4 separate regions of the Homo sapiens genome follow, and all the other regions are linked to region 2. Evidence: fine-mapped expression QTL. A gene starts in region 2. Each other region holds a variant in brackets. All regions are shown on one strand. Distances are between the middles of the regions.

What was found. PIP is the estimated chance that this variant, and not a neighbour inherited with it, causes the effect. A credible set is the group of variants that fine-mapping cannot tell apart.
Region 1: its variant is the best candidate, but not a certain one, in a credible set for the expression of SCAF8 in visceral fat (GTEx, PIP 0.77).
Region 3: its variant is the best candidate, but not a certain one, in a credible set for the expression of SCAF8 in whole blood (TOPMed, PIP 0.51).
Region 4: its variant is the best candidate, but not a certain one, in a credible set for the expression of SCAF8 in whole blood (TOPMed, PIP 0.52).

What each region holds. Positions count from the first base shown.
Region 1 is chr6:154,176,314-154,184,680 of GRCh38, reverse strand. All of the region lies in intron 10 of IPCEF1 (interaction protein for cytohesin exchange factors 1), which reads left to right. It also overlaps a transcript of OPRM1 not described here. Among named protein-coding and RNA genes, the nearest start is that of OPRM1, 140 kb to the right of the region's middle. The variant G/A (reference allele first, on the strand shown) is at 4,690.
Region 2 is chr6:154,729,527-154,737,893 of GRCh38, reverse strand. It overlaps SCAF8 (SR-related CTD associated factor 8), which reads right to left and starts at 4,478. Exons shown (of 20, transcript NM_014892.5): 1 at 3,964-4,478. The coding sequence starts at 3,993. RefSeq lists silencers at 3,706-4,305, 4,456-4,575, 4,606-4,845 and an enhancer at 3,942-4,445.
Region 3 is chr6:154,833,796-154,842,162 of GRCh38, reverse strand. It overlaps SCAF8 (SR-related CTD associated factor 8), which reads right to left. Exons shown (of 20, transcript NM_014892.5): 20 at 7,942-8,367. Among named protein-coding and RNA genes, the nearest start is that of MIR1273C, 15 kb to the left of the region's middle. The variant T/C (reference allele first, on the strand shown) is at 4,596.
Region 4 is chr6:154,776,648-154,785,014 of GRCh38, reverse strand. SCAF8 (SR-related CTD associated factor 8) reads right to left here. Exons shown (of 20, transcript NM_014892.5): 3 at 6,970-7,014. Among named protein-coding and RNA genes, the nearest start is that of SCAF8, 47 kb to the right of the region's middle. RefSeq lists a silencer at 6,013-6,213. The variant ATG/G (reference allele first, on the strand shown) is at 4,608.

The DNA.
Region 1 (8,367 bases), 550 kb after region 2:
AATATATTGTACTTTTATTAATTGGTAATATCTGTTATAGGCACTATGCCTACAATTTTTGTGTTCTGGATCTTGCATTCTGGTTATTAACAATTTGGAGTGTATTTTTTCTATGTACCAATGCGCATATATATATATACATACACATACATAGATGTACACACATATACCATTGGTCTTTTAAAAAAAATGTAAATAGAATTAGGTGACAGATATCCATCTGTAGCCTGTTTTTCCACATAAGCCTTCCTTGTTAGTACATGCAGCTCTACCTTGTTATTTTTGATAACTGCATCATTTTCTGTGGTGTGAATATTATACTACTACTAGTATAGTAGTATTATTTATTCTCCAAAAGATGGAAATGTAGGTGATTTCCAATTTTTTATTATTACAGAGTGTTACAGTAAACATTCTAATATGTATCACTTTATATGCCAGTGCTATTACATTTTGAGATAGCTGATACAGCTATTTTTTTTTAAGAGAAAGTTTTCAGTGTAACTCAACATTTGAAGTGTACTTGCCCTTGGACCAAGCAATTCTTCAAATGTTGAGATACACTGAAAACTTTCTCTTAAATAAAGCAACAACAACAGCTGTACCAGCTTTCAGCTATAAAATGAATAAGCTCAGGGGATCGAATATGCAGCATAGTGACTAGAGTTAGCAGTACTACATTGTGTACTTGAAATTTGCTTAAATGTTCTGACCACAAAACAATTTTTTTCTTTTCCTGTTTGTGTTTTTTGTTTTGCTTTGTTTTTTGTTTTTTTTGTTTGTTTGTTTTTGATACAGGGTCTTATTTTGTTACCCAGGCTGGAGTGCAGTGGCATGACCTCGGTTCACTGTAACCTCTGCCTCCTGGGTTCAAGTGATTCTCCCACCTCAGCCTCCCACGTAGCTAGAGGCATGCACTACACCTGGCTAATTTTTGTATTTTTGGTACAGATGGGGTTTCACCCTGTTGGCCAGGCTGGTCTCAAACTCCTGACCTCAAGTGATCTGCCTGCCTCGGCCTCAAAAAGTCCTGGGATTACAGGTGTAAGCCACCACCCAGCCCAATCTTTCTTTTTATCACTTTGTCAGTATGGTAGTTAGAACATACCTTTATAGCATCCTTTGGTATTCTATAGAGCGCACCTCTCCTTGGCACTATCATTCAGGTAATCTTGTGAATTTAATTTTCAGGTTTTATTTAGAATATAATTTTTGGATTTTGGTCAAAATGTTCTCAAATGTTTAGATTAATTTGGCAAGAAGTACTATCTTTAAAGCATTAAGTCATCCATGAATATGGTATATCTACCTATTTAGGTCATGTTATGCAAGTACATAGATTGCAGTAGATAATAGTCATAGCGATAAGTGAATGAGAGCGCCATCTTGAAAAGATAAAGGTGGCTGGGTGTGGTGGCTCACGCCTGTAATCCCAGCACTTTGGGAGGCCAAGATGGGCAGATCACGAGGTCAGGAGATCGAGACCATCCTTGCTAACACAGTGAAACCCCGTCTCTACTAAAAATACAAAAAATTAGCCGGGTGTGGTGGCACACACCTGTAATCCCAGCTACTGGGGAAGCTGAGGCAGGAGAATCACTTGAACCTGGGAGGCAGAGGTTGCAGTGAGCTGAGATCACACCACTGCACTCCAGCCTGGGCTACAGAGCGAGAGTCCGTCTCAAAAAAAAAGAAAAAAAAAAGATAAGGGCATTTATTTGTTCAGCCTTCATATTCTGCTTAGTGAAATTGAGATAAGCTAACTTCTTCCTTTCTCTTGCCTCCCTGTTCTTGACCTGAAGTGTTCCCTAGTCTCATCCCTTTCCTTTTTCTAAAATTTTCATTTTTACCTTTTGTATTCACTTGTCCCCATCATGGATCCACATGGTTGATGGATCCAGCGGGTTATGGTGCCACAGCTAACATATTTATCTACAATGCATTGGATTCGTATCCTAGAATTTAGGTCATTTTCCAGCTTCCCACCCACTGCTACCATTTTGTTCTCATTCAACTGATACCTCATAAACGTATTTTAAGAAGAAAAAAAGGCGATCAAATATCTTTTTTGTATGTACACCAACGTTTTCTGTTTTCTTAGCATATGAGGAAACATAGTAATTTTATGTCTACTTTAAATATCTTGCCTAATCCTGGGTGCTCCTATATTTGGAAGAATAAAATTTAAAAACAAATGAAATATTTGTTTTAAGAATATAAAGCTACTTAATCAGATAGTTGAGCAATGGAGTCAACTTAAGATTATTTCAGAAAACGATTGCCTCAAGACTCAATAATAACAACAGCAAAACAACCATTAAAGATCACCCAATAGACTAGGATTGTTCTTATCAATAAAAGCAATAATACAGTAGAAGAGCCTTGAGCTGTCTTAACAGAAACATCAAACACATGAAAGAAGATACGTACATGACTCTGGCAGAGAAGGTAAAACAAATAGAGGAAAATGAGGGAAATCAAAATGAAGCTACTCTTGTCTTAGATTCATGAGAGCACAAGTAAAAACATTAGCTTTATACTTGGGTGTTCTCTCTCTCTTTCTCTTAATATGTTCAGTTTCTCATGGAATTTCTTTTACCTGTGATCTTTTTTAAAAATTTTAATTTAATTTAATTTTAAGTTCTGGGATACATGCGCAGATGTGCAGGTTTGTTACAAACCTGCCATCTTTTAAAATCGCCTCACCTTTCCCAACTAGAGTGTTCTCCCAACTTGACGTTCTCATCTTCTAAGCACTCATACCTCTGTTTAATACATGGCTGCAGTCTTGTACACATGTATTTATGATTATTACCTTCTGCTTTTGATTCAACTGGTTCATGATCCCCAAGTGTCCAGTTCAAGTCCCCAAGAAGGTAATCTGATTTTGTGGTTTGTGTCCTAGATTGCTGGCTGGCTTATCAATTTTCTGCTCTCAGGTCTCGTGCCCTGCGGCCCTGTGGAGACAGAATTTGAGGTACAAAACCTGGGAACCTCAGCAGCAGAGGCTCCGGGTGGGGATTGCTCCCTTTGAAGATGCAGTAGTTCAAGCAGGGATCTGAGCCTTGGTCTGTCCAGTTCAGTCAACTGCTATCTCAGTGACTATATATTGCCTAATTTGAAATATATAGTCTTCACTGACTTTCATTCAAAAGAACGCATCAAATATATATATTCATAGCATAGTATAGCTATGTAAATTTAAAGCATAGTATTTAAGAAAACGAGCTTTGGAGTCACAACCTAGGTTTGTCTCTTTGTGAATTTGGTGAAAGAATTTTAATTTAACACTTCTCATAGAAGTGTTAAAAGATAATGAAATAACGTTGGTCTAAGAATTAACACAGTGCATGTCACATAGTAAAAACTCAATGTATGATCGTTATCTCTACCCAACAGGAACAAAAATAGGAGATTTCTCTCTCAAATTATACTATGCCAATGTTGTTGGTCAGTAGTGTCCTCACTACTAAAATGAGTTATCCAGATTTTTTTCTTAATTAAATAATTTAAATATATCATTATGATTTCAAATCTTTTGCTATGTTGTAGAGTTGTCAAATTTACTAATTGGAGAAAGCCTATACAATTCTTCTGATCTTTTGGCATCAGGTGCTATATTAAATAACATGTGTAAAGCCTTTTAAGGTTTTGCATACCTTTAGGGTATGCAAAATACCCAAATGACTATATAGTTTTTTCTTCTCTTGGTGACAAGTGCCTTCCACGGTCTTTTCTTTCTCAGGCACTTAGAACATTGCATATGAACAGGAAACGCTGTTTTCTACCTAAATTTTTCCAAGTGTTGCATGTTGGGGAACTAAAATTATCTTCCCTGGGACATCATTTAGACATTCCTAATCTGAAACAAATTTCCTTTCAAATTCTGATAAGAAATATGGCATATGAATTCCCCTCCTGTCTTCTGAATCCAGCATTTAGGTTCTAAGTAGAAAATAAACAGCCACATTCTAGAAAGCACAAGGAAAGACCAAAAATAAGATAGTGGGGGAGGCAGAGTTGAAAATATAGCATTTAAAGAGATAATCTGCATACAGTGTTCTCGACAGCCAAATTCTGGGCCTACTGGGGCATGCCTGTGCTGTCAGAGCAGACAATAGACTGGGGTATGGAAGAGGAGGAGAAGGGAGCAGCACATTCATTTGGCAGGGTCTTGGAAAGGAGTGAACTTATAACTGTTGGCTAAAAATGTTGTTTTGTCTCATTTGCTAATGTCACCAAGAAGGATCATGTTTAAAAAAAAAATATATATATATATATATATATATATATAGTTGTTGTTGTTAAACTAGCTCAGTATATATATATATATGTCTCCTTTCTTGAGTCTAACTAGTTAGGTAGCTGACCTAAGTTTGAAGAAAGTTTAGGAGTCTGACCCCTTGAGACATCCTAAGCTAGTCTAACAAAAGTGAAGGGTCACTGACATTAACCCAAATTCGCACCAACTCAACATTATGAGGCACTGACACTTTTAAGCAGGGATTTTGGACATACTCCTTTGAGCAAAGCCAAATTTTCTTTCATTCTCTTGTTTTGGTTTTTCAGTTAAGAGATAATACAGAGTGCTGCTTTATGGACAAATCTCAGTGTGCTAGTTGTAACTCTAGTTGCTTTCTCTTCCAATGACTTGAGGCTAGCATTGCATGAAAAATTGCTAACAGGCTG[G/A]CCTTGCTACTCAAAGTATGGTTCATGGACCAGCAATTCCAGCATCACTTAGGAGCTTGTTAAAAATTTACAATCTCGGCACAATCCCAGATGAACTCAAATGGAATCTACATGTTAACAAGGTTCCTAGGTGAGTGCCTGTTAAAAGTTTGAGAGGAGTGGTCTAGAAGGGCATGATTCTGCACGGTGTGAAAGTGAACTTTTATTCTTAACTCCATCACTAATTTGCATTTTGAAAAGATCACTTACTGTTTTTCCGGAATCTTTATTTTTCTCATCCATAAAATAAAAATAGTTTTCATCTTCCTTGACAAAACACTTGTGAGGTGAGATAAGACAGACTTTAAAGTGCCTTCTGTGGCAGAATCAAAGTCCTGCTGTTTTATGTAGGAAGACTAAAATATGCTCCAGAAAGGAAGGATAAAAATTGCATTGGAAACACTTGACTGTCAGACAAAATTCATTTATTTTGCTTCAGAAGATAAGGGGGGGCGGAAATAATTAATTTGGCTCCCGTCTCCAATGGGAGAGAGACAAGCGGTCTTCTCTGCCAATCTTTTTTCCTCGCTCTTTATGATCTTGTAAGATAAGAGAAATAATGTAGTGTTTTCTACTATGAAATTCTAATTTAGAAAAATATATAAAAAGCAAAAGGGAAATTTTTAAAATACTGCTTTACTGAAAAGCCTCTTGGAGGTACAAGGGTAGCCAGAAAGGTTTGACAAGCCTGCTGTAGTCTTAGTATAGCAATTGAGAAGGATTCTCACATTTGCTTTGGGGTCAGGTACAAGCTGTGTTTTCTTTTGCACTTGTACCTTTTGGGTCTGTTTTTGTCCTGTGATCCTACTTATCACCTGCTTCCACTGGATGTTCATTTTATGGCCCTGTGAAGACCTAAGCATCAGCCATTAGCAACAATAAAAACAATGTAATGTCCCTGACTGGGTCGTGGACCTGGGGCACAGTGCATCCCCTGAGTATTTAGTGATATGTTGTAGACCTCTTAGATTATGACACACAAAACAGCCAATAAGGGTATTTTCTTGATTCCTAACACCAGAATTTATTATTTTACTGTTTTATGCTTGTGGATGATTCTGGAATCAGGTTATTAGAGGTCAGACACACAGTCTTTCAGTTCCAGGCTTTCTCTGAGGAGAGAGGGATGGCTGAGAGGCAGGAAGCTGAGTGATAATTTGCCTTTCATTATTTCCTCATTTTCTGAACAGCTTTAATCCTATGTGAACATACATACTTCTTGCCATTATCTCATTTTTGGATTAATTTAAATTGAAGATATTGGTTTTTTTGAGCATAATATATGAAATTTTAGGTGAATTCTGTTTTCATGTCTGGTTACCCCAACAGGTTCACTTTATCTGTTTGTTAATTTTAAAGTTTAGTTATTTATTGGAAGATCAAGTTGTATTTACATATACACAGTTGCCCAACCCAAAGTTTAAGTTAGAAAAAGAAATGGAAGAGGGGGAGGAAGATACCCTTCGATATTTTTAACATAAAGGTCATATATCTTCATGTAAATACATTAAATAATAAAGCTATCAAAAAGAAAGTTCCATTTATTTTTCATGTAGGGAATATATTATATGCCATGTTATCCTAAGATTCTAAAGTTATTTTTATCTTTACTGATTTAATATCTATTGAATCAGATATGTAATTTTAATATAATTTTTTTTATTATTATACTTTAAGTTCTAGGATACTTGTGCACAACGTGCAGGTTTGTTACATAGGTATACATGTGCCATGGTGGTTTGCTACAGCCATCAACTCATCATTTACATTAGGTATTTCTCCTAACGCTATCCCTCCCCCAGCCCCCCACCCACCAACAGGCCCCAGTCTGTGATGTTCCCCTCCCTGTGTCCATGTGTCCTCATTGTTCAACTCCCACTTATGAGTGAGAACCTGTAGTGTTTGATTTTCTGTCCTTGTGATATTTTGCTGAGAATGATGGTTTCCAGCTTCATCCATGTCCCTATAAAGGACATGAACTCATCCTTTTTTATGGCTGCGTAGTATCCCATGGTGTATATGTGACACATTGTCTTTATCTAGTCTATTATTGATGGACATTTGGGTTGGTTACAAGTCTTTGCTATTGTGAATAGTGCCACAATAAACATATGTGTGCATGTGTCTTTATAGTAGCATGATTTATAATCCTTTGGATATATACCCAGTAATGGGATTGCTGGCTCAAATGGTATTTCTAGTTCTAGATCCTTGAGGAATCACCACACTGTCTTCCACAATGGTTGAACTAATTTACACTCCCACCAACAGTGTAAAAGTGTTCCTATTTCTCCACATCCTCTCCAGCATCTGTTATTTCCTGACTTTTTAATGATCACCATTCTAACTGGCGTGAGATGGTATCTCATTGTGGTTTTGATTTGCATTTCTCTGATGACCAGTGATGATCAGCATTTTTTCATATGTCTGTTGGCTGCATAAATGTCTTCCTTTGAGAAGTGTCTGTTCATGTCCTTTGCCCACTTTCTGATGGGGTTGTTTGTTTTTTTCTTATAAATTTGTTTATGTTCTGTGTAGATTCTGGATATTAGCCCTTTGTCAGATGGATAGATTGCAAAGATTTTCTCCCATTCTGTAGGTTGCCTGTTCACTTTGATGATAGTTTCTTTTGCTGTGCAGAAGCTTCTTAGTTTAATTAGATCCCGTTTGTCAATTTTGGCTTTTGTTGCCATTGCTTTTGGTGTTTTAGTCATGAAGTCTTTGCCCATGCCTATGTCCTGAACGGTATTGCCTAGGTTTTCTTCTAGGGTTTTTATGGTTTTAGGTCTTACGTTTAAGTCTTTAATCCATCTTGAGTTAATTTTTGTATAAGGTGTAAGGAAGGGATCCAGTTTCAGCTTTGTGCATATGGCTAGCCAGTTTTCCCAGCAACATTTATTAAATAGGGAATCCTTTCCCCATTGCTTGTTTTTGTCAGGTTTGTCAGATCAGATGGTTGTAGATGTGTGGTGTTATTTCTGAGGCTTCTGTTCTGTTCCATTGGTCTATATCTCTGTTTTAGTACCAGTGTCATGCTGTTTTGGTTACTGTGGCCTTGTGGTATAGTTTGAAGTCAGGTAGCATGATGCCTCCAGCTTTGTTCTTTTTGCTCAGGATTGTCTTGGTTTCATATGAAATTTAAAGTAGTTTTTTCCAATTCTGTGAAGAGTCAGTGGGAGCTTGATGGGGATAGCATTGAATTACCTTGGGCACTATGGCCATTTTCATGATATTGATTCTTCCTATCCATGAGCATGGAATGTTCTTCTATTTGTTTGTGACCTCTTTTATTTCATTGAGCAGTGGTTTGTAGTTCTCCTTGAGGAGGTCCTTCATATCCCTTGTAAATTGGATTCCTAGGTATTTTATTCTCTTTATAGTAATTATGAATGGGAGTTCACTCATGATTTGGCTCTCTGTCTGTTATTGGTGTATTGGAATGCTTGTGATTTTTGCACATTGATTTTGTATCCTGAGACTTTGCTGAAGTTGCTTATCAGCTTAAGGAGATTTTGGGCTGAGATGATGGGGTTTTCTAAATATACAATCATGTGATCCACAAACAAAGACAATTTGACCTCCTCTTTTCCTAATTGAATACACTTTATTTCTTTCTCTTGTCTGATTGCTTTGGCCAGA
Region 2 (8,367 bases):
ACATTTAATTTGGGGCAGGCACCACGGCTTAGGCCTGTAATCCCAGCACTTTGGGAGGGGAGGTGGGCAGATCACCGGAGCTCAGGAGTTCATGACCAGCCAGGGCAACATGGCAAAACCCCATCTCTACAAAACAAAAACAATTAGCCCGGCGTGGTGACCTGTCAACAGCGAGTACCTGTCTCAATTTTTCTGATTCAGGGTCGCACTGTTGCCCGGGCCAGAGTGTAGTGGTGCAGCTCACTGCAGCCTCCACCTTCCTGGGTCATGAGATCCTCCCACCTCAGCACCTGCCCCCTCCTTTACACCCCCTTCACCCATGTTGGGACTACAGGCACATGCCACCGTGACCAGCTAATTTGTGTTGTTGTTGTTGTTTTGTAGAGATGGGGGTTTCGCCATGCTGGCCAGGCTAGCATGGAACTCCTGAGCTCAAGTCATCTGCCCACCTCGGCCTCCCAAAGGGATGGGATTACAGGCATGACCCATCGAGCCCAGCCTATTTTAAATATTTTAAGGTGAAGTATCAAAATATCTTGTTGACAAACGTTCCTGATTATTCTTAGAGCTAAATTTTGATTCCTTACAAAGCAAATGGAATTGACAATTCAATGTTTCAAAGATACCTTTAAATTTAGCAGAGAAGTTGTGATGGATTAAACCCAAAGATAAACACCTTTAAAAGCCAAACTATGAGCGTCGAAAACATCCTTTTCTCCTAATCCTGCAACTAGAATTCCTTTTTAATTTTTGTAATTTGTAACACATAATTTAATGGAAAACAATCATTACTGAACTACTTCTCAGCATATACTTATTTGCAATAACAATGTTTACTACACATCAGCAAATATTACAACATTCACAGAAACTGCATTCAAAATAAAAAACAGTATTATGTATTGTTTTGTGTTTAAAAAAAAAAGTATTTTTCTGAATCTTCTTCAAATATATTTCCCTTCCTCAACTCCCTGACTCTGTACTGCTATTTTTAAGCTAACTCCACTTTGAAACACGGTGAAGTTAGAGCATATAAATAAATAAGGAAGTTACAAGACTTAAGTTCTTTGAAATCCATATGGGGAAATGGGAGAGTGCTACATACACTAAAATGGGACTAAGACAAACCTCAAGTTCCTGTAAAATGAGAAAACAGGTGAAACACCTATCTACACATGTAAATGTTAGGCCCCCTTATCCTTAATTAATATTAAAACGAAAAACTGGAATTAACATTTCTTCCCTACTGTGACCAACCATAGTGCACTAACCACTTGTTTACATCTAATATTTGGGAGCTACTGTTTAAAACGTCATGGATGGGCCAGGCGCAGTGGCTCACGCCTGTAATCCCAGCACTTTGGGAGGCCGAGCCGGGTGGATCACCTGAGGTCAGGAGTTCGAGACCAGCCTGGCCAACGTGATGAAACCCCATCTCTACTAAAAATACAAAAAACTAGCTGGGCATGGCGGTGGGTGCCTGTAATCCCAGCTACTCCGGAGGCTGAAGCAGGAGAATTGCTTGAACCCAGGAGGTGGAGGTTGCATTGAGCCAAGATCTCGCCATTGCACTCCAGCCTGGGCAACAAGAGCAAAACTCCGTCTCCAAAAAAAAAAAAAAAAAAAAAGTCTTGGATGGCCCTTTGAGGGGGAGGACCACATTATTAGGAACCCCCCCAAAGACAGACACCCAACAAAGTGTGTGTGGGGAAGAGGGTGGCGGCGGGAATTAAATCCAATGAGGGCAAAAAACAAAACAAAACGAAATCCCCCAGGCGTGGTGGCTCACATCTGTCATCCCAGCACTTGGGATGCCAAGGTGAAAGGACCGCTTGGGCCCAGGAGTTCAAGAACAGCCTGGGCAACATAACAAGACCTCCTCTCTATAAAAAATAAAAATGACGGGCATGGTGACACTGGCCTGTAATCTCACCTACTTGGGGGGCTGAGGTGAGAGGAGGACCCCTTGGGCCCGGGAGGCAAAGGATGCAGTGAGCCAAGATCACACCACTGCACTCCAGCCTGGGTGACAGAATGACACTCCTCAAAAAAAGAAAGATAGCTATGAAAAAAAATGAAACACCAGGCGCAGTGGCACACGCCCATAATCTCAGCACTTTGGGAGGCCAAGGCGGGTGGATCACTTGAGGTCAGGAGTTTGAGAACAGCCTGGCCAACATGGTGAAACCCCATCTCTACTAAAAATACAAAAATTAGCGGGGCGTGGTGATGTGCGCCTGTAATCCCAGCTACTCGGGACACTGAGGCAGAAGAATCGCTTGAAACCGGGAGGTGGAGGCTACAGTGAGCTGAGATGGTGACACTCCAGCCTGGGTAACAAGAGCGAAACTCTGTCTCAAAAAAAAAAAAAAAAGAAGATTCCCAAGTCTATTGCTCTAATTTATCAATGTTAAAAATAAAAAATGTAGTATTAAAAAAGAAAATGCTTTCCAAAAAAAGTTATGTATCACTGCTATTGAAAATAGCCCAAATATTATCTACCGTTTAGCCTCTTAGCTAAGATTCCCAAATACTGTTTTTCTTTTTAAAGAAATTAAAACAAGATAAAACTATGCAACGGCATTTAAAAGTACTGTCCTATTTGGGCCGTCACAGCAAAAAGCCTCGTATTTTAAGAGGTAAATATTAAAGATACTCTTTAACAATCATAGTATCGAATAAAGTATTGGCACTTTAAGAGTTCATAAAATTTATGCTAATTTAGTTACCAGCATAATTACACTTTTTCTTTTTCTTTTTTTTTTTTTTGTAGACAGAGTCTCACTCTGTCACTGGGCTGGATTGCAGTGGCGCAGATCTCGGCTCACTGCAACCTCCGCTTCCCAGGTTCAAGCGATTCTCCTGCCTCAGCCTCCTAAGTAGCTGGGATTACAGGTGCCTGCCACTACGCCCAGCTAATTTTTTGTATTTTTAGTAGAGACAGGGTTTCACCACGTTGGCCAGGCTGGTCTTGAACTCCTGACCTCGTGATTGGCCCGCCTCGGCCTCCCAAAGTGCTGGGATTACAGGCCTGAGCCACTGTTCCCGGCCATAATTACACTTTCCAAGGCGTACGGGTAGGGATACTAATGCTGACTGTGCAGATGTGTACTTGCTATGTTTGATGTTTACATTAAGGCCTATTGAAGTCGGAGTTTAAAAAGAAATTGAATACATCAAAACCTGTCTTCTTCCAGACTAGTAAATTCAACTACACAGTGAAAATGGAATCTGCTTTTTAAAATCTTGTTTGACACGTGAATGAACCAGCGAGAAATGTTTCCCCCATAATCTTCCATCTCTCGATGCACAGATCTCTCCCTACCATTTGTCTTTATGTCGTGATGGATTAGAAGAGGAGCGAGTAAAAATAAAAGATATTGCAGAATAACCTTTGCCTGCCTACCAACCATCCAATTAGCTCAAGTCCCTAGCTGGCAAATTACCTAGTCAACAATGCCTCAATTATAAACACTACGTGTAACGTGACCACAGATCAACACCCCGTAGGTTCATTTCCCCCACCGCCCCCAATCGGTGTTAGCCTCAGTGAGGACCCGGGAAGGTCTGGAGAGTCATGTCCAGCGTCCACTTAAATCCTCAAAGGCCCAGGAAGGAGGTGGGCGGGCCAGGCCTCGGCGGAACTGACCTCGAGGGACCTGTCGGGAGTCTCCGGGTGAGGGCCCAACCGGGTCTTTCCCTCCGAGCTCGCAGCCATTCCATAGGACGCCGGAGACGCCAGAACCTCCCTCCGCCCCAGGGCGGCCCTCCCCCAACCCTCCTCCCGGACCCGGGGGAGGGGCACCCAGAGGAGAAACACCCCTCCCCCACGGGCACTGCTAGGCCACCGCTCACCCCACCCTTAAAAAACCCGCAGGCCCGCGCCCACCCTCCGGGCCCCGGCCTCGACCAGGGGTGGGGGCGGTGCGGGCAGGAGCAGGGGAACCCGGCTGCCATACCAACCTCGCTATTGAAGGTCTTCACGGCCTCCATGTTGTCGCTGCGGAGGCCCCGAGCCCGGCGGCGGAAGAGGCGGCGGCCACTGCACTGGGTGGGGAGAGCGAGACGCGGGCTGCTGCGTGGCCGCGAGGAGGGGGCGCTGGCGGGAGAGCGGGCCGCTGCGACCTCGGGGCGGAGTGGAAGGGCACGCGCTGGCGGGGAAGGGCTCCCTCAGCGGCAGAGCGGCACCGGCATGGCCGCTAGGGCGGGGGGAGCGCCGTTCTAGGGAACAGAGGCGCTGCCGGGGCGGGTCGGCGGCGGGCGGGGGAGGGGCTGGGCCGCGGCGCCTTCTCTTCTCTGCCCCGCTCCGTTTCGGTCCCCCTCCCTCTAGCCCCTTCCCCTACACTCTCCACTCCCTTCTGCCCCTTCCTCCGACGGGCTCCTGTTTCACCTCCCCGCCGCTCGGGCCGCAGGAACCAGCCCCGCTCGGCGAAGACAGAGGAGGAAGCGCTGGCAGCAGCGGCTGCGGCATCCAATATGGCGGACTCGAGTCGGGCCGCGCAGTTCGGGGATCCGCGGCGCCGGCTAGCGCGCCCCCTGGCGACTGGACCGTGCGAGCCCCGGCGGCCGCGCGGAAACCATCGAGCGCGCTGGGGCCAGAGCGTCGCCGCCCGTAGGCCCGGCTGGGCTCCGCTGCCCTCGCCTTGGCTCCGGGGCCGCCCGCGCCTCGCCCCCTCCCCGCGCCCCGCGGACGCGGGAGTGAGCGCTGCGGCATCCGGGGGAACGCCGCGGCGGGTTTGTACAGCAGGAGGAGGCAACTCCAAAGCGCGGCTCTAATAAGAGCCTAAACGTGCCCAAGAAGCGGCAAGTTGAGGAAATGTGCGCGTTTCCCTTGTTTCCCGGTGGATTGGTCCTTTTGCACAAGCGGCAGGGTTTAGTTGCTTTTCACAACTTTACTGGACAGTGCCCTAAACATCCGCAGCCTTCGCCAAGAAAAAGTTCCTGGTCATCTATTTAGTAACTGAACTCAATTGTTTTAACTGCACAGGGAGGGAACATTAGAAACCAAAGCCTTGGATTCGGGTTGGGGCAGGCGGCGAGGGAAACAGGCATGCAGCAGCTCCTTGCAGGAAATGCCCGCTGCATAGGATCCAGGGACTGGAGTGGCACAATGAGCGCATTTGTCTGCAAGGCGGGAAGGGGACCCTAGAATGCACAACACTTGAATAGGTGAAAAGGGAACCCGTCTGTTTCGGAAGATGAATTGTTCTAAAGGAATTTTGCCCTAGGATACTTGGAGTAAAGGTAAATACAGTATTTCTTAGATGGATTAGGAGATGCTGCTAGTAAAAAGCCTTCTCTCTCGTGCAGCGCAAAATAAGGTACCAATTTAAAAATACTTATCGATGTTAAAAGATAGGGATGTATCGTGGAACCCCGAACACTGCTGTCCTCTTGTTGAAAGTCATTTTTCAACAATCATTCCCAAATTCACTCAAAGGGAGAGAGGAACATAAGGGCAGGATCGTACTTTTGGAGAGTTTTGGAATCAAGGTAGTTCCTAAGAGCTGTGCGCAGAGCCCCGTGAAACTGGGAAAGTAAGGCCCTTCTTGAGGTTTCAGAGCCTTCATTCTACTTCATTGGCAGCTTTAGTATAGGGCCTGGCTACTGAGAAGGTAACAGGGATAACTCACCAAGTGCTTTTATATTTACTTTCAAAATCTCAAATTCTGTCACAGATTTCTCCACCGTCTCCCATCTTCAGGCCTAGCCATGATCTTTTACTGACACTTGCAGTAGCCTCCTAACTGGTCCCTTGCTTGTCTTCCTACAGTTCATTTCCAGACAGTAGCCGAGGGATGTTTTTCTTAGATAAATCAGATCAGGTCACTCCCTTACTTAAATCCCTTAAATACTTTCTCATTGCCCATTTGATACCATCATAACTTCTCACCATGGCCTGAAGGCCCAGCCCAGCCTGCCGCAGCTCACACCACCTTCCCTTGCTCCCTGACTCTCCTCCTGCCACACTGGCCTTTCTGTTACTTGACAAGAAGCAGTGTTTTCATAGGTAGGACAATTGTGTCTCTTCACACAGGGTGCTGTTGCTCTTGTCCTTTCCATAGCTGACTCCTCCTCCTTCAATCTTCCTGAAAGAGGTCCCCTAATCACTCCATCTAAAGGAGCATTTACTGTGGCTTGAGAAAGTACTGCACTCAGTTCTGTGCATGCCAGGTTCTCACAATCAGAAGTCACTGCTTTGAGGCCGGGTGTGGTGGCTCTCGCCTGTAATCCGAGCACTTTGGGAGACCGAGGCGGGTGGATCACCTGAGGTTAGGAGTTCGAGACCAGCCTGGCCAACATGGTGAAATCCCGTCTGTACTAAAAATACAAAAAAAGTAGCCAGGCGTGGTGGCACGCCCTTGTAGTCCCAGCTACTCGGGAGGCCGAGGCAGGAGATTCGCTTGAACCCGGGAGGCGGAGGTTGCAGCGTGCCGAGATCGCGTGACTGCACTCCAGCCGGGGCAACAAGAGTGAAGCTCTGTCTCAAAAAGAGAAACAAAAAAGAAAAGAACGGAAAAAAAAGGCGCTGCTTTGGCCTGTGAGGGATTATTTATTAGGTCATACATGAAATGAGTGTTGATGGAATTACTTAGGCCTGAGAAATTAAAATGCAATACAAGCTAAAGGATAAAATCAGTGGTTAACATGCTTCACAATTTGATTTAATAAAGCTTCCGCATTCAGAATGGTAACAGAGGGCATAGTTTGATCAGGGTAAGCAGAGGGGGAAGATACAGAGAGCAGCCTAAACACAATCTTTTTTTTTGCGGGGTGTTGGGGCGGGGCTGGACGGAGTCTCGCTCTGTAGCCAGGCTGGAGTGCAGTGGCACGATCTCGGCTCACTGCAACCTCCACCTTCTGGGTTCAAGCGATTCTCGTGCCTCAGCCTCCTGAGTAGCGGGGATTACAGGCACGTGCCACCACACCCAGCTAATTTTTGTATTTTTAGTAGAGATGGGGTTTCACCATGTTGGCCAGGATGGTCTTGATCTCCTGACCTTGTGATCCGCTTGCCTTGGCCTCCCAAAGTGCTGGGATTATAGCCGCGCCCGGCTTTTATTTTTTATTTATTTATTTTTTGAGACTGAGTTTTGCTCTTGTCGCCCAGGCTGGAGTGCAATGACGCGATCTCGGCTCACCGCAACCTCCGCCTTCCGGGTTCAAGCGATTCTCCTGCCTTAACCTCCCAAGTAGCTAGGACTACAGGCAACCGACGCCACGTTCGGCTAATTTTTGTATTTTTAGTAGAGACGGGGTTTCACCATGTTGGCCAGGCTGATCTCAAACTCCTGACCTCCAGTGATTCACCCTCCTCGGCCTCCCAAAGTGCTGGGATTACAGGCATGAGCCACCTCGCCCAGCCTAAACACAATCTTAATATAAGAAGGCGATAAAGCAAGAGAAGGGTTAGAGGGGAGCCTGGGGTTCCAGTGCAATGACTATATACAAAATTTATACACAACTACATACAGAGTGTGAAAACAGTACCCGTGTGTGTGTGTCTGTGTGTGTGTGTGTATGTATGTACGCTAGGATTCTGATTGCCAGTATAACCAGCCAATTTGAGCTAGTTTAAGCATAAAATAATAATTCATTATTACAGTACAGGTTTTTCTCATGTAACCAAAAGTCAGAAATGTAGCTGAGTCCAAGGGAGGGACTTGAACCAAAATAGAAAACCTAAGAGGCAATGTAATCTCTGCTTATCTGCTTAATTTTTCTATTGCTTTACCCAATTCTCTGTTTTATCTAGTGGAATCTATTACTTTTGGTTTTATAGTTCTAGACAACTTGAGGACCTGAATGACGACCTCTTCCTTCCCAAATCCAAATTCCCAAGGAAAGAAATAAGGAATTTCATTGACCCAGCTTGGATTAGGTGACCATCACCAAGAAACTGACCACTAATTTGGTTCTCAAAAGACTGATAGGAAATAGTGGTCAGGAGTACTTCAGTCATTGGAAGAGATATTTCATAATCTAAAGTTTCTGGTGTTCTCCTGTAAATGTTATCATCAGATTGTCCCTGAGGACTAAATAGTTTCTGGGAGTAACTTATAGAAATGAATTCAGCCATGGCCAAGAGGTCAGAGTCAAAAATAGTCTAGAGCAGTAGTCACCATAGAACTTTCTGGGGTCATGGAAATGTTCTGAATCTGTGCGGCCCAATTCAGTAGCACTAGCCCTGTGTGGCTACTGTGCACTTGAAATACGGCTAGGGCAGCTGAGGAAGATAATTTCCAATTTTATTTTACTTTAATTGACTCATGTTTAAGTATGTGGCTAGTGGCTACCATATTGGAAAGCATAGGTCTAGCTAGAGGGTACTCGCTCCCATGGACAGGGCACTTCTTAGATAAGGGA
Region 3 (8,367 bases), 100 kb before region 2:
TCTAATATGACACTGAAATGGCAAAATGATAGTCACATCACACTAGGGAGAAAATTTTAATAAGCAGACAAAACAAAATGATAACATTGTCCATTCTTTCAAAGCACTGACATACAAAAGTGAAAAGATACAACAGTGCACATTTTCAGGGTACCTATGTTTACTGAAGTCTAAAAACTCCTCCACCTTTAAAAGTCAGCATTATTTCTTGATGGAAGAAAAATACACAGTAACTTTTTGATGTAATACTAATATTATTGGGTTTTCTTTGCAAATTCCTTTAGTTCAAGTATTACTAAAGAAACATAAACATATGGACATTACAAATTCAGCTAAAAAACTAGGTAGTGCTGACTATCCTGTTTAATGGTAATATATGTATTAGGTATTTAAATTTGATTATTATAACACAAAATAATTTTAACATGGAATTTCTATAAAGATGTATTTTGTCACTCTACAGTGCCTGCCTCTTCCACTGTGTTTTTTTTAAGATGTTCATCAATTTACCCAATTTTGTCATAGCTGTTACCAACTGAATTGTGTCCTCTCAACCCCAAAAATATACGTTAAAGTCTTAACTACCATGTCTGAAAATGTAACCTTATTTGGAAATAAGGTCATGGTAGATGTAACTAAGATGAGATCACACTGGAATAGGGTAGGCTCCTAAACAAATATAACCGATGTCCTCATAAGCAGAAGAAAACTTGAACACAGACGCAGAGGTAAGATGATGCAAAAACATATGAGGAAAGACAGCTGGGGGGTGATGGAGGCAGATATTGGAGTGATGCATCTACAAGCCAAGAACACCAAGGACTGCTGAGAACTGCCACAAGTTTGGAAGAGGTAAGGAAGGATTCTCCTCTAGAGCCTTCAGAGAGCATCGCCCTGCTGACACCTTGATTTTGGACTTCTGGCCTCTGGAATTGTGAGAGAATAAATGTTACGTTACCCATTTTTTTCTATGTTGTTGCAGGAGGCCCAGGAAACTAATTACACAGACCATCTATTAACATCTACCATTCTAAAAAAGCATCTTTTAAGGTAAAGCATTGAAGTCAGCAAAACCTGGGTTCGAATACCTATGCAAATCAAAAGCTGTGTAACCAACCATAGGCATCTTTTGAATTCGCCTCTTCACTTGTAAAGAAAAGATAACAAAGCCTACCACATAGGGTATTTCTGAAAATATATTTTGTAGAATGCCTGCCACACTACAGGTTCAAGTCTCTCCACCCTCAAAACCCTTCTCTCCTTGTAGTGAGAGTGCATTAAACCTATGGTCAAAGACTATTTTGCTAGCAAAAATACATGAAAGCAGAGGGCTGTAATTAAAATACTCAATAAATTTTATTAAAAATACCCTTCTAAATGGAGTCCTTGATGGTTTTGCCAACTAAAAACCTATATCCTGACCCTTGGTATGACCGCAGCGATATAAATGCAACCCTAAAGCAATTTTTATCACCACAGAATACCACTTCTGAAGATTATTTAACACAAATCTTATTTTACTGAAACCCTTGCTAACGTATAAACTTAGTTCAGTAATAAACAGACTCATTATTAAAAAATGCTTGTTCACGTGCAACATTTATTTCATGTAATAATAAGCAAGATAATTACTTTTACGAAGATTAGTGGAAATATAACTCATAAACTTGATAAACACGTTCTCCAATGTGTGGATTAGGTAAGAATATGGCCACAATGGTCACAGTCATCTGTCCAAGGACTCTTGAAAAAAGTTATCAAAGGCCAGCATCATGACATGCTGTGGATTAAACCTTATATGAATATAAAGTTTAGTGACTTGAATAGAAGACTTAAAAAAAAAAACAACAAAATCAGGTTATATATTCTAATAAGGTAAAAGTACTGTAAATTATCCACTGCCGCTAAGGACAAAGATTAGTTTCTAAACTCTTCATATGAATGGAAGTGGTGAGTAAACACTAGCACTAAATGCTTACTACGTGTAAAAATAACTTTACACATTGTTTAATTCAAGCCATGGAATATTCCTAAAATAGGAGTTTTATGCACAAGAAAATGGTACTAAGTTTTAGTTATACATGCAGTGTATAAATGTTAAATTTTGGAAAGAAGCTGCCAAAACCAAATCCTAAAATATAAATTTGTAAGCAATCACTGGCTCTGCTTTACAAAGCATTTTAAAAGATATAAGGAATTTTAAATTTTATTTAATTTGCAGGAAAAAGCGTATTCAAAAAGAAATCTTAACATAAATGTCTGCCTCCAAAATAGCCAGTTATTAAGAAATTTAAAAATATTATGCCATGGTATAACCTTAAGGAAAAAAAAAACCAATCATGCAAATACGGGCCAGGTGCCTATAGGGGCTCACACCTATAATCCCAGCATGTTGGGAGGTGGAGGCGGAGGCAGAGGCAGAAGGGATCACTTGAGCCCAGGAAGAGTTCAAGGCTGCAGTGAGCTATGATCGCACCACTGCACTCCAGCCTGGATGACAGAGCGAGATCCCATCTCAAGAAAGAAAACAAAAAAGAAAAAGAAAAAGAAGAAAGGGAGATCTAAGAAAATCAAACTTAATTATTTAGCCATAGGAAAAGGAGATAGCCCGATATATGTTTGTAACAATGGAAACAATTTAGTGGTTAACTGTGGCTATAAACATATGGCTGGTTGGGTTATGTTTTTCTGCATATACATTGCCTAATATCTGGTGAGCCTCTATCATGTCAGGCACTTTATCTGATGGTACACACTAATTTTTGAATCTGGTACACAGTGTTTAAATCTTCACTACAGTGAGTCTGCAAAGTAACTTAAATCTGTGTCTTGGGTTTCTCTTCAGAAAAATAGTGAAGTAATAAGTACCTTATAGGACTGTCGTAAGGATTATATTGTGCAGGTAATACAATTATTCCAGTTCCTGTCACAGAGCATGTGTCCATTTAGTATTAGCTAATATTATCTTTAATAATGAAAATTTACCCCTTCAGATTAGCTAATAACAAACGATGTTTAGAGGCTCAGTAACTTGTCCAAAGCCACACATCTAGCTATTGTTAAAGGCAGTTTTAAAAACCCAAGGGCAATAAAATTTGTGCTATTTTTAAAAGTGTTCCAATAATGTTAAGTCTTTCCATTCCTCTTAGTTTTCTTCCTCAACTGGTCATTTACAGAAAAGAAAGCTTATTTCATAGACTTGAGGTAATTAAATGCTAGAAGTGATGTCAGAAATAATCACTTAGTGAAGGGGCAGCAAATGACTTTCAATGCAAACAACAAATCCAATTGATGGTCCCTGCCTGGAATGATGGGGTCAAAAAGGAGCCTGGAGTGCTCTATGAGAAGGATTTGGAGGCTAATTCTGAGAAAGGCAGAAAAATAAAACAAAACAATGATAGCTGCCCACAGGGGTGGGGATGGAAGTCGGGGGAGAGGGTAGGGAACAAAGAACACAGGACAACCAGGTGCTATATTTCCACCATTGCGATTCAAATACAATATACTTGAACTATCTATTGAGCTCCACGCAAAAACACCCTCAATTAACTGAGGCATCTAATGTCTCCCATACAATATGAAATTAGCCCATTAGCACAATTCTATCCCTTGATATACAATATATATTTTACAAATTACTTAGAATATTTGTTCTGTATCTTGAATAAACTTTAGAACAAGAAGCCCGAGTCATTCTAAGTATACATATGGGAGCAAAAGAGCCTGATGAAAAAGGAGGAACTTAAGTGGAGGGGATGAAAAATGCCTAAGCAAAGCTCATGCACAAATAATTCACTGATTTGCATTAGTTTTGACATGCACATCTAAGGAGTCTTACTAATAACATTGCTTCTAGACCCTGAACACCTACAATATTGGTCCAAAGAGATTCTTTCTATAATCAAAACACTTAATTACATGTATCAAGTAAATTTTCCTTGAGGTAATAATCCATGAACAAGTTTCACTTGCATAAAAAAAAAAAATACTTCCCTACAAAACCATCTCATATGCTTCCTGCCATCCCTTTCTTCCTATAACTCATCTTTAGATTAACGCTTAAATTTAAGCTGTGATAACTGACTTCTCTACTTTTGAATCATCCTCCAACACCAACTGCCACAGTTAACTGCATGCTTTGTTGAAACACTAAACATAATCTCATGTAACTAAAATATTTGGATTTTTAAAAATCTTAAGAATCTCAAGAGTATGGTATAATAAAGATGTACATATTTTAATATATCTGAAATGGTGGTATGTGGGGATTTAAAAAACCATATATACACAGGAAGGTGCATGTATGCATATATTTTATATATATATCACCCTCAGGAGATTCTGTATTAGTAACTCTGTGGTGACCACCCTCTACTCCCCATACCCCCACCAAAATATTTTCAGAGAGCTCCACAGGTGTTTCTGTTATACATTTCCTGCCTGGGAACCAGAGAGAGGGGACATCTCAAATTGCTTTCAATATTTATGTGCCCATATTTAAAGTATGCCTTTCCACCAAAAAAAAAAAAAAACAAACAATCTGGGCCCTTAATTTTAAGTTCTAGTTTTAGAAAGTTTTGCTGGATATCAAGATA[T/C]CTTGTTTTTAAATCTTCCATTAAAAATTATAATAATCAATATTTCTCTTCAGAAGTAATAAATTTTCAGTGTCTACAATTTGTTAGTTTAAAAGATATCATATATGAAACCACAGCATGAACAATATTAAGATTTATAATTCTCTGCCACACCATAGTATGACTACTTAAAATAATTTAGACCTTTATTTTGCCTAATGAATATAAAGATACTTGCCTTTCTATATATTATGTAAGTAAAATATTTTTAAAGAGAAATATGTTAGTTTTCTTTGTAAGTTAAAAGCCAAGTATTTTATTAATATAGCACCCAATAAAGTAATGATGATGAAGGCACATAAGGTATAACAAAGTTTTAATATGAGAATCTTCTTGTTCATTAAAGGTTGTGCCCATCATATATATATATAATATAATCTGTTAGATATATATTTGTTAGATATCTAATATATATACACAGAACAGAAAGCTTATTAGATATCATATATATATTAGACATAATAGTGAAGAAAAACAAAATATTCTCTAAATCACTTGAGGTGATATGTGTGTGTGTGTGTGTGCGTACGAAAGTTTAGACTGGGACGGGTGCTGTGGCTCACACCTGTAATCCCAGTACTTTGGGAGGCTGAGGCGGGCAGATCACGAGGTCTGGAGATCAAGACCATCCTGACCAACATGGTGAAACCCCATCTCTACTAAAAATACAAAAAAAATTAGGCGGGGCGTGGTGGCAGGTGCCTGTAGTCCCAGCTACTTGGGAGGCTGAGGCAGGAGAATGGCCTGAACCTGGGAGGCAGAGCTTGCAGTGAGCGGAGATCACGCCACTGCACTCCAGCCTAGGCAACAGAGCGAGACTCCATCTCAAATAAAAAAAAAAAAAAAAAACAATGTTTAGACTGGTAGAAAATTTATTCAAATTAACTGATTAACAGTAATGTTCATATATTCTCACTAAACTGAAAGTCCATTTCAATAATAAATATTGTATTTATTTGATACTAGGAAACTTCACGTTTATCTCTGAATTAGGAATGTATCTATAAACACTAGCATGTCATATTAGAAGTATTTTCTATTTCTGAATGGTGTTTCTTACAATCAATGGCACCTTATATCCCACGAAATACAGTGTTTATTTAAAAAGCACTTTTTCAAATTAAAAAGATGACTTCTCCTTTTTAAATTTACAAAACGTCCCCTAACCCCCAAACAACCCTAAATGTGTGGCTCCTTAAACTATAATCTTTTATATGAGTGAAAAATGGCAAATAAATTTAATGAAGAAACTAAACTCTCAGGACAAAAGGAACTGGTCTGGTAAGAATGCAATAGCTTAAATAATGAATGCATTTTTATCTATTAAATATTATATGGAGTTACTTCCAGAGTTTTAAGTAATTTCATACTTCTAGTATTTTCATCTTCCAATACTTTCAAATTATTTGTCTACCCTTTATTGAAATAAAATTAAAATAAAGGAACATATGATGCAGATTACTCTGCTGTAAACTAAGTTTCTATCAGTGCATGCATTTATGCTAAGAACACAAGCTAATGTTTAATGAAATGTTTAAATACAGATAAAAATTAGGTGTTCGCTAATACTGCAGAAAGGCATATCATTCTAACATGTCACAAATTAAAACACTACATGATTTGGTGTCTAGTTATCACTGCTTGCAACACTTCAAACCAATGTATTAAAGTGGTTAGGTTACTCCTTGCACATTTCTAATTGCTAGTATTCTAGTGACAGAACTGTGACCAAAAGCATAAAAAATGTGATAGGTCCTATGCCAAATTTATCAAAGTAAGATAATTAACTTTTCTCTCCATCATTTAAAAAATGGCAAATGCAATTATGACTTTTGAAAATTCTGAATGAGGATAATCTCTTTTCACTTAAATTCTATACAACAAAAAACAAGGACAAAGAACGAGCACATGATAATTTCTTTTAACTATTTTAAAAGAGTGTCATCACACATTTCCAAGATTGGTTTCTAGATACAGTACCGATAACTGGTTAGGTAACTTTCACTACTAGAATCTTCAAACCAGTGCAATGCTTGTACATTTTTTTTTTTCAAGTACACACGTGAAGGCCCAACAGTGATAAGAAGCTTGGCATCAAAAATCACTAGAAAGTCTCATGCTTTTTATCGCTATTTAATCCAAGTGACTGTCACTTAATTTTAATAATGCTAAACAAACTAGTTTGAGAGAAATCTCAGCCAATATAATTTCCTTAAGGGCAAGGCCAATATTTCCTGAACATTAAAACTTTGTACCCATGTAATAGTTTTTCCTCATTACCCTAAGGAAAAAAGAGTTGAAACCAATTCAAATTACTGATTGAACTGAATTACCTTGGAAGTAAATACCATTGAAATATTTTTACTCTTTACTTTTCTAAATAACAAAATAAATACTGTACTATCCCTGTTCAGAACTTATAAGAAGTCTTTCATTTTTGACGAGGAACCTTAAAGTTCTTATAGCTCTCTAGGTCATCAGAGGTAGGCAAGACCAATCCAATTTTAAATGTCTGGTGTGTTCTATCATTTTTTGGAGCTATCTTTGCTTAGAAATTTTAGATAAACAGAGCAAATGATAAATTGCTGGTAAGGCATTGGAAACAAAATGACTACTCATAGAACCAAATAAAAGCCTTCCATTAGAAACTAAAAAACACCAATGGTTTTATATCTGTGTATATAAGTAAAACCTAAAAGAGAACAAATAGCAAATAAAAATTAAAAGCAAAAGCAAAAACAAACAGGAAGCCAACCCCTACTTTTTTCCCTACTCAGTTTACCTTGCAGGCTACAGTGTTACCCAGAGCCCTACAAAACACATGATGGGTATTATGTTCCTGGTATACACATTAATGTCTTTAAGTCCACCAGCACCACTACACATTTTGTGCAATTAAGAAATTAACTTCAGGCACGTGACCAGTGAGTACTTTAGTGTCAGTACTATCTACGCAGAATAGCAAATATAGTGTGAAACAAAGCAATGCAAGCATTTATGTGAAATTTGGCTCCATGCTAACTCTGGCTTCATGCTTACCTATATTAAAAATAGAACTGCCAAACTACCAGTGTATCTCTTTATAATATCTCTTATTTTACCTTCATCAAGACCAAGAGCTTTAACTATAACCCATGTTAATTAGCCAGATTTCTCCAATATTCTACCAGATTTAAAAGAATATTTTATTATCTAAACTTTTTCAACTTTCTATTTTCTCTGTATGTGCATGAAGACGGACATACAGAGAAACAGAAAAAAACTACACGACTTCCACAATAAACATACACAGATATTATACACATACTGAGGAGGCTGCATGATTTTTATATCAAAGTACATGCTTTTTCCACCACATAGTTCATTGTTGTTATGATAGAAAGCTTTTGCAAAAAATAAGCACATGCTAATAATAATTCAAGGTTTTAAGAATTTATAGGTTAAAAAAATACAATTCCTAGAACACTGTTATCAAACAAATAAGTTTTATTGGCATCTAAAAACAAAATTCACCCAACATTGAAACGTACTTTAATATTTATGTTGTTGTTTTCTTGTTTCTTTTTTACTCACTGCAGTATGAGGAACAAATCACAAACACTTACTTTGGAGAAACAGAGACCGTAGTGTAGATTTTACAAAATCACTTTTTAAAATCTCTGTATTGTGCTCCTCAAATACCTAGAGCCAGTCTTTGCATAAAATATCACAGCTTTATCTATAACCTTAAAAT
Region 4 (8,367 bases), 47 kb before region 2:
GTGACACAAAATTCAAACTGGTTACCTGGGTAGGGGGTATGCAAGACATGATTAGGAAGAGGCACTTGGGGCTTGTGGGCTTCAAAGTTCTACTTCTTGAAATGAGTGGGAGCTACATAGGTCTTCTCTTTATAAAAATTTGGCTGTATATGTTGTTTTCTGTACTTTTCTACAGATGTACATAGAAATTTCAGAATAAAAAGAAATACAGTTGTCCTTCAGTAGCCTTGGGGGATTCGTTCCAAGACCCCTGAAGATACCAAAATCCGAGGATGCTCACGTCCCTTATATAAAATGGGCAGTATTTGCATATAACCTACGGACATCATCCCATCTACTTTAAATCAGCTCTAGATTACTGTGAATACCTAATACAATGCCTACACATCACTTCATTCACATTCTACTCAGTGTATAGGAAATTCAAGTTTTGCTTTCTGGAATTTCGTGGAATATTTTTTCCCCAAATTTTGATCCCAATAGGCTGAACCCATGGGTTGGAACCCACAGAAACGGAAGAGTGACTGTAATTATATAAACATCCCTGGTTTCTTAAATAAAGCAAGAGGCAAAAGTTTCTCTAATCATAATGATTAAGAATGACTGATAAGCTTAAGATATATTTGAAATGTAAATTTAAAAAGTGTGGAACTTGTGTTGATCTAAAATATCCTAGGGAAGAGGAACTTTAATAAAAATACATATGAAAAGTGAGAATCTGGAAATATACTCCTTTCAAACTATTTGTGCCCATGTACAAAAATCTCTTTGTATCCTACCTCCAAGCATAAAGGTATACTCATGATAAAAGTCCAGTTACAGAATACTGCACCCTACATGAAAAATAAATAAATAAATATATATATATATATATATATATATATATATATATATCTCAAGACACCAGAGATAAGTAAATATAACAGCCATCTTTCTTTTTATTTTTTTGAGACGGAGTCTCGCTCTGTCACCCAGGCTGGAGTGCAGTGGCATGATCTCGGCTCACTGCAACCTCTGCTTTGTGGGTTCAAGCAATTCTCCTGCCTCAGCCTCCTGAGTAGCTGGGACTACAGGCATGTGCTACCGCGCCTGCCTAATTTTTGTATTAGTAGAGACGGGATTTCACCATTTTGGCCAGGCTGGTCTCAAACTCCTGACCTCTCAAGTGATCTGCCCACCTCGGCCTCCCAAAGTGCTGGGATTATAGGCGTGAGCCACTGCACCTAGCTAACAGCCATCTTTCAATGTGGACTCAATCCTTCCTCTGGAAAAATATCAAAGAGAAGAATAAATGTTTCGCTTCTTTGAAAAATATATACATATCCACTGCAAAATATCAACCACCATTAACAACCATGTACATACAGCTACCAGATCAACTTTCTAGAAAACAAAAAACTTTCATGATGATAATCTCTAGACAGTTTAGCACCATCTTTTCATTTATTATTTACAAAGTAAATGTAACTTGAAAATCACCACAAATAAGCCACATTTCCTGCTCTTACTAAATATGTAGCAGGAAATTTGAAGAAGGTAATCATAGCCAAAAGCTTACAGATTAAGGCAATAGTAACTCATCTACAGACCACTTTCAGAGCCAGAAAGATGAAATTTATTCCTGACCTCACCGTATCTAAGAGTAGCCACAGTACCATAGAATGTATTTCACTGTAACAAAGCATCTAGATTTTATCAAAATAAATAGTTCTGAATGATAATATTCGATCTTATTCTGAATCTAGTAGACACATTTGCTTGTAGTACTCATGCAAAAAAAGGCAAGGGATTTCATACAGACAAAAAGAGTTGGGTAAACTCTACATATTTTTGGAACAGAGCTGAGGATTTCATTTTTGCATTTCAAACCAGCAAATGAGAACAGAGCTATGGATGGTAGAAAAGTCACCAAATCATGAGGTCTCTGGCTCAAAATAAAATTTATTGCCTTTAGGATTCAGGATAACTAAGGTAAGTTAGTTATTTATAATGCAAATATAGGGATCTATGATGGTTAATACTGAGTGTCAACTTGACTGGATTGAAGGACATAAAGTATTGATCTTGGATGTGTCTGTGAGGGTGCTGCCAAAGGAGATTAACATTTGAGTCAGTGAGCAGGGGAAGGTAGACCCACCTTTAATCTGGGTGGGCACCATCTAATCAGCTGCCAGCAAGTATAGAGCAGGTAGAAAAATATGAAAACGAGAGATTGGCCTAGCCTCAGAGCCTACATCTTCCTCTTGTGCTGGACGCTTCCTGCCCTCGAACACTGGACTCCAAGTTCTTCAGTTTTGAGACTCAGACTGGCCGTCCTTGCACCTCAAGCTTGCAGACAGCCTGCTGTGGGACCTTGTGATCGTGTAAGTTAATACTTATGTTAATATTTAATAAACTCCCCTGTATATATGTATACCCTATATATGTGTGTATATATACACATATCCTATTAGTTCTGTCCCTCTAGAGAACCCTGACACAGGATCATAACAAGTTCTAAAACCTGTCTTCTGAAGTTTCCTTATCTGTTTCTAACTCCCGCCTCTGCTGCTGCTGCCGCCCCCATTTTTTCTGTTTGTTTGTTTTGTTTTGTTTTGAGACAAGCTCTTGCTTTGTTGCCCAAGCTAGAGTGCAGTGGCACAATGATGGTTCACTACAGCCTCAACTTCCTCCTGAACTCAAGCCTCAAGCAATCCCTCCACCTCACCCACATAAGCAGCTGGGAACACGGGCACTTGCCACTTTGCCCAGTTAATTTTTGTAGTTTTTAGGCTGGGACAGGGTTTTGCCACGTTTGCCCAGGCTGGTCTCAAATGCCTGAGCCCAGCCTTGGCCCCTCCCAAACTGCTAGACTGTAGGCATGAGCCAGAGTGCCCAGGTGCTTCTGTCTTATAAAGCTAAGACACAATCAGCATATGAACTGATTTTTGGCAAAATTAATTAGGACAAGGCCAGAGACCAGAGTATTCTTTAGAGTAGTTTTCTTGGCCTAAAGGAAATCATATTTACTGTTAATTTTTCATTTACTGTCATTTATTACTCCATAAATCTTTCATGACTAAAACATGGGTTCACGGATAATATATGACCAAACTGCAGCCACACTTCTCCCTCACACAATTTATGGTATATGAAGAGAATATAAAATGGTACCGCCATCTTGGAAAACAGTTTGGTAGCTTCTTATAAAATGGAAACATGTACTCACTATCCCAAAGAAATGTAAACTTACATTCACACAAAAACACTCTGGGTATACAAGTGTTCCTAGCAGCTTTATTCATAATAACCAAAAACTACAAACAACCCAGATGAACCCCAATGAGTGAATGATTAAACTGTGGTAAATTCATACCCTGAAATACTACTCAGAAATAAAAAGTAAGGAAACCATATGTCTCTTCTGGTTACTGTAGCCTTGTAGTATAGTTTGAAGGCAGGTAGTGCAATGCCTCCAGCTTTGTTCTTTTTGCTTAAGACTGTCTTCGCTATACAGGCCCTTTTCCTATTCCATGTGAAATTTAAAGTAGTTTTTTCTAATTCTGTGAAAAATGTCAGTGGTAGTTTATGGGAATACCATTTATTCTATAAATTACTTTGGGCAGTATGGCCATGTTCACGATATTGATTCTTCCTATCCATGAGGATAGAATGTTTTTCCATTTGTTTGTGTCCTCTCTGATTTCCTTGAGCAGTGGTTTGTAGATCTCCTTGAAGAGGTCCTTCACACTCCTTGTTAGCTATATTCCTAGGTATTTTATTCTCTTTGTAGCAACTGTGAATGGGAGTTCATTCATAACGTGGCTCTCTGCTTGGTGTATATTGTTGGTGTATAGGAATGCTTGTGATTTTTGCACATTGATTTTGTATCCTGAGACTTCGCTGAGGTTGCTTATCAGTTTAAGGAGTTTTTGGGGCAAAACAACGAGATAAACTCTCACACCAGTCAGAATGGTGATTACTTAAAAGTCAAGAAACAACCGATGCTGGTGAGGCTGTGGAGAAACAGGAACACTTTTATACTCTTGGTGGGAATGTAAATTAGTTAAACCATTGTGGAAGACAGTGTGGCAATTCCTCAAGGATCTAGAACCAGAAACACCATCTGACCCAGCAATCCCATTACTGGGTATATACCCAAAGGAATATAAATCATTCTACCATAAAGACGCATGCACACGTATGTTTACTGCAGCACTATTCACGATAGCAAAGACATGGAATCAACCCAAATGCCCATCAATGATAGACTGGATAAAGAAAATGTGGTACATATACACCATGGAATACTATGCAGACATAAAAAGGAATGAGATCATGTACTTTGCAGTGACATGGATGAAGCTGGAAGCCATCATCCTCAGCAAACTAACATAGGAACAGAAAACCAAAGATCCCATGTTCTCACTCGTAAGTGGGAGTTGAACAATGACAACACATGGACACAGGGAGGGGAACAAAACACATCAGGGCCAGTCGGGGGTGGGGGACGAGGGGAGGGAGAGCATTAGGACAAATAGCTAATGTATGTGGGGCTTAAAACCTAGATGACAAGTTGATAGGTACAGCAAACCACCATGGCACAGGTATACCTATGTAACAAACCT[ATG/G]TGTTTTGCACTTGTATACCAGAACTTAAATTTAAAAAAAAAAAAAAAAAAGGAAGGAACTATTTGATACATGCAACAACTTGGTTAGATCTCAAAAGAATTACGCTGGGCAAAATAAGTCAATCTCAAAAGGCTACATTTTGTATGATTCAATTTATATAACATTTTGAAATGTAAAATAGAGAAAGAGAACAGGTTAATGACTGCCAGGCATTAGGGATTAGGGATGGGGAGGAGGAGGTGAGTCGAGTATGACTATAGAGTATATAAAAGGGAAACACAAGGCATCCTAGTGGTGAAGGAACTGTTCTGTACCTTGACTATGGTGATGTTTATATGAATCTATATATGTGATTAAACGGCATGGAACTAAATGCATACATATACAAATGAGTGCATGTAAGACAATTAAAATCTGAATAAGGTTAGTGTGTCAACAGGTGACTGTATCAATGTCCTGATTGTAATATTTTACTACAATTCTACAGAACGTTACCACAGGGGGAAACTGAGTGAGGGGCACATGGGATCTCTACATGATTTATTCCTACTGATTTAATGACATGTGAATCTACAATTAGCTCAAAAGTATAAAAAAAAAGTGTATATATATATATATATATACACACACACACACACACACACACCTTATTTTAACCATTACACAAATCTGTTGCTGGATCTCTGATTTAAACAGGGTAATAGCAAAGCATTTAAGTTTTTCCCCATACACTGATTGGCTTCTTCAGATTGACTGTAATTATCTCACGATAGAGTAACTTTGCTCATTCCAGGTCTTCCTAAGATTCTGACACATTTTATTCAAAGTACCCTACCACAAATCAAATCAGTCAACAAGCATTTATCCATAAATTCACTTTTACCTTTTAAACCTTTACTACTCAAATTGTGGTTTGTAAAGAAACATCATCTAGGAGCTGTTACAAATGCAGAATCTCAGGTTCCTCTCCACACTCGGTGAATTAGAATCCACATTTTTAACAAGAATTCTAGGTAAATTCCTATTCATCAAGTTTATGAGGCATAGTGTAAGACATTAAAACTTTATGGCTGGGCGCAGTGGCTCACGCCTATAATCCCAGCACTTTTGAGAGGCCAAGACACATGGATCATTTGAGGTCAGGAGTTCAAGACCAGCCTGGCCAACATGGTGAAACCCCCATCTCTACTAAAAATACAAAAAAATTAGCTGGGCGTGGTGGCGCATGTCTGTAATCCCAGCTACAGGGGAGGCTGAGGCAAGAGAATAGCTTGAACTCGGGAGACAGAGGTTGCAGTGAGCCGAAATCTTGATACTGCACTCCAGCTTGGGCGACAGAGTGAGACTCCGTCTCAAAAACAAAAACAAAAAAACCAAAACAAAACAAAACAAAACCAGACATTAAAACTTTTAAAGAAAGATCTTTAATCAGAACAATCTCTGAGAAATGCTTTTAAAAGCGTTAGACCAAATAAAATTTTCTAATCACTAACATTTTTAAACTTTAAGTGAAACAGACAGCATACTTGTTATTCAACCCTTTATCTTAGCTTCAAGTTACCTAAACCACTTAATCCCCAAGTATGTTTTATCTACACACACACACACACACACACACACACACACACACACACATTTTTTGAGACAGGGTCTCACTCTGTTCCCCAGGCTGGAGTGCAGTGGTGTGATCTCAGCTCACTACAACCTCCGCCCCCTGGGTTCAAGCAATTCTTGTGCCTCAGCCTCCCAAGTAGCTGGGATTACAGGCATGCACTACCAGGTCAGCTAATTTTTGTACTTTTAGTAAACACACAGTTTTGTCATCTTGGTCAGGCTAGTCTTGAACTCCTGGCCTCAAGTGATCCACCCACCTTGGCCTCCCAAAGTGCTGGGATTACAGGTGTGGGCCATTGTGCACAGCCTATCAATACTATATTTTAAATACTGAGAAAACAAGAATTTTAAAAAAGAAAAAAGAACTCAATGACATAAAGGCTAACTAACTTATTCAAAGTTACCTAGCCAGTTGAATGACTGAAATCTCACTTCAAATCCCGCACCCTTCTCCCAAGTGGAACATAAACACACTGCAACCTTGCTGAATCCTTAATACCACATGACACCGATTCTCAAACTGGCTCTGCTTACATTTAGGCACATGAACATAGGCAGAATACAAACCTAAGTAAAATTATCTGAAAGGCACTTTTATTTTATTTCTTAATTGGAAAATAAAATAACTGGAATCACTTTTTAACAGTCCATCAAAACAATTTAAACTTGGGTATTTGATCTAAAGGAGAAGAGTACAGGCATTAATCTACAATTACAGCACATGTATGGAAAATTATATACTTACTTTCTGAATAAACTTCTCAACACTCTGTACCACATGTTTATAGAACTAAAAGAGGAAAAAAATGAAGTATGGTTTTAAAATCAGTTTGAGGAGATTGAAATTTCCTGCTAACCATAGGTTTTACATGCTCCAAAGGTCTATCAAAACAATTATCTTAACCAAGAATTTTGAGACAAACATTCTTGTCACTCACCTTTATATGCAACTAGCTGTGCTATATAATTAGTAAAGGGCTTCTCTAAAGTAGATGTGTGATCAGCATGTCCAAAGTGCATTACCTTACCACAGATATAAAATAATGCTATTGAAGACTTTCTGAAAGCATACTTTAACAAACAGTTGTGTTGACTTCAAAATACTTCTAATAAGTACTGGTGGGTGTATATTCTTATATTCATGAAAGGAAAAGTACAGATTTCATACAGTATGATTTTATCAGTTAAATCAAGGGAAATTTGAAAAATCAAGTAACTACAAATAACATTAATAAATGTATGTAAGGTAGTTTTCTACTTCATTTATCTCCTTCTGCTTCTCCTGGAAAATGAACTGCAAGAATACAAAATAAAACATAGAAATGTATAATATCCTAATGGATCAGACAAAATGAATCAGCGGAAGTGAACATGTAGATTAAAAATTAGTAATTGGCCACTATCAATTTTAAGAAAACTTAGAAGATTTAAGTTTCATAAAATATAGCACTATGAATAAACTTGAAATAAATTATAAATTTAGCGTATAGTATATACATGTGTGCCTAATAAATTTTAATGCCACAATAACAATACCATATTGGCGTATGATTTCTGTTTAAAGAACCTGAATTGTGCTTCTCTTTATACTTTTTTTTTTTTTCCCCTTGGAGACACACTCTCACTCTGTCACCCAGGCTGGTGTGCAGCGGCACAATCTCAGTTCACTGCAACCCTCGCCTCCCGGGTTCAAGCGATTCTCCTGCCTCAGCCTCCCAAGTAGCTGGGACTACAGATGCGTGCCAGCCACCACGCCTAATTTTTGTATTTTTAGTAGAGACGGGGTTTCGCCATGTTGGCCAGGCTGGTCTCTAACTCTTGACCTCAAGTGATCCACCCACCTCGGCCTCCCAAAGTGCTGGAAGTATAGGCGTGAGCCACTGCGCCCAGCCTTCTTTATACTTTTCTTCTCGTGAATTATGCTTTTTAAGGACATTCCCTTAGACTGAAGAAATAGGAACATTCAACTAAACCTCAGCACTAAATCCAGTATTTATAATAACAAAAAGAAAAGAAAACATCATGAACTCATATTCACCAAATCAAAACCTACAAGTTTAAGTCTGGCTAAAGTTACTTACAATAAAGTAAGTTTACTCAATGGTTTAAGTTACTTAAGTAAAAAAGCCAAAACAACTAAAGT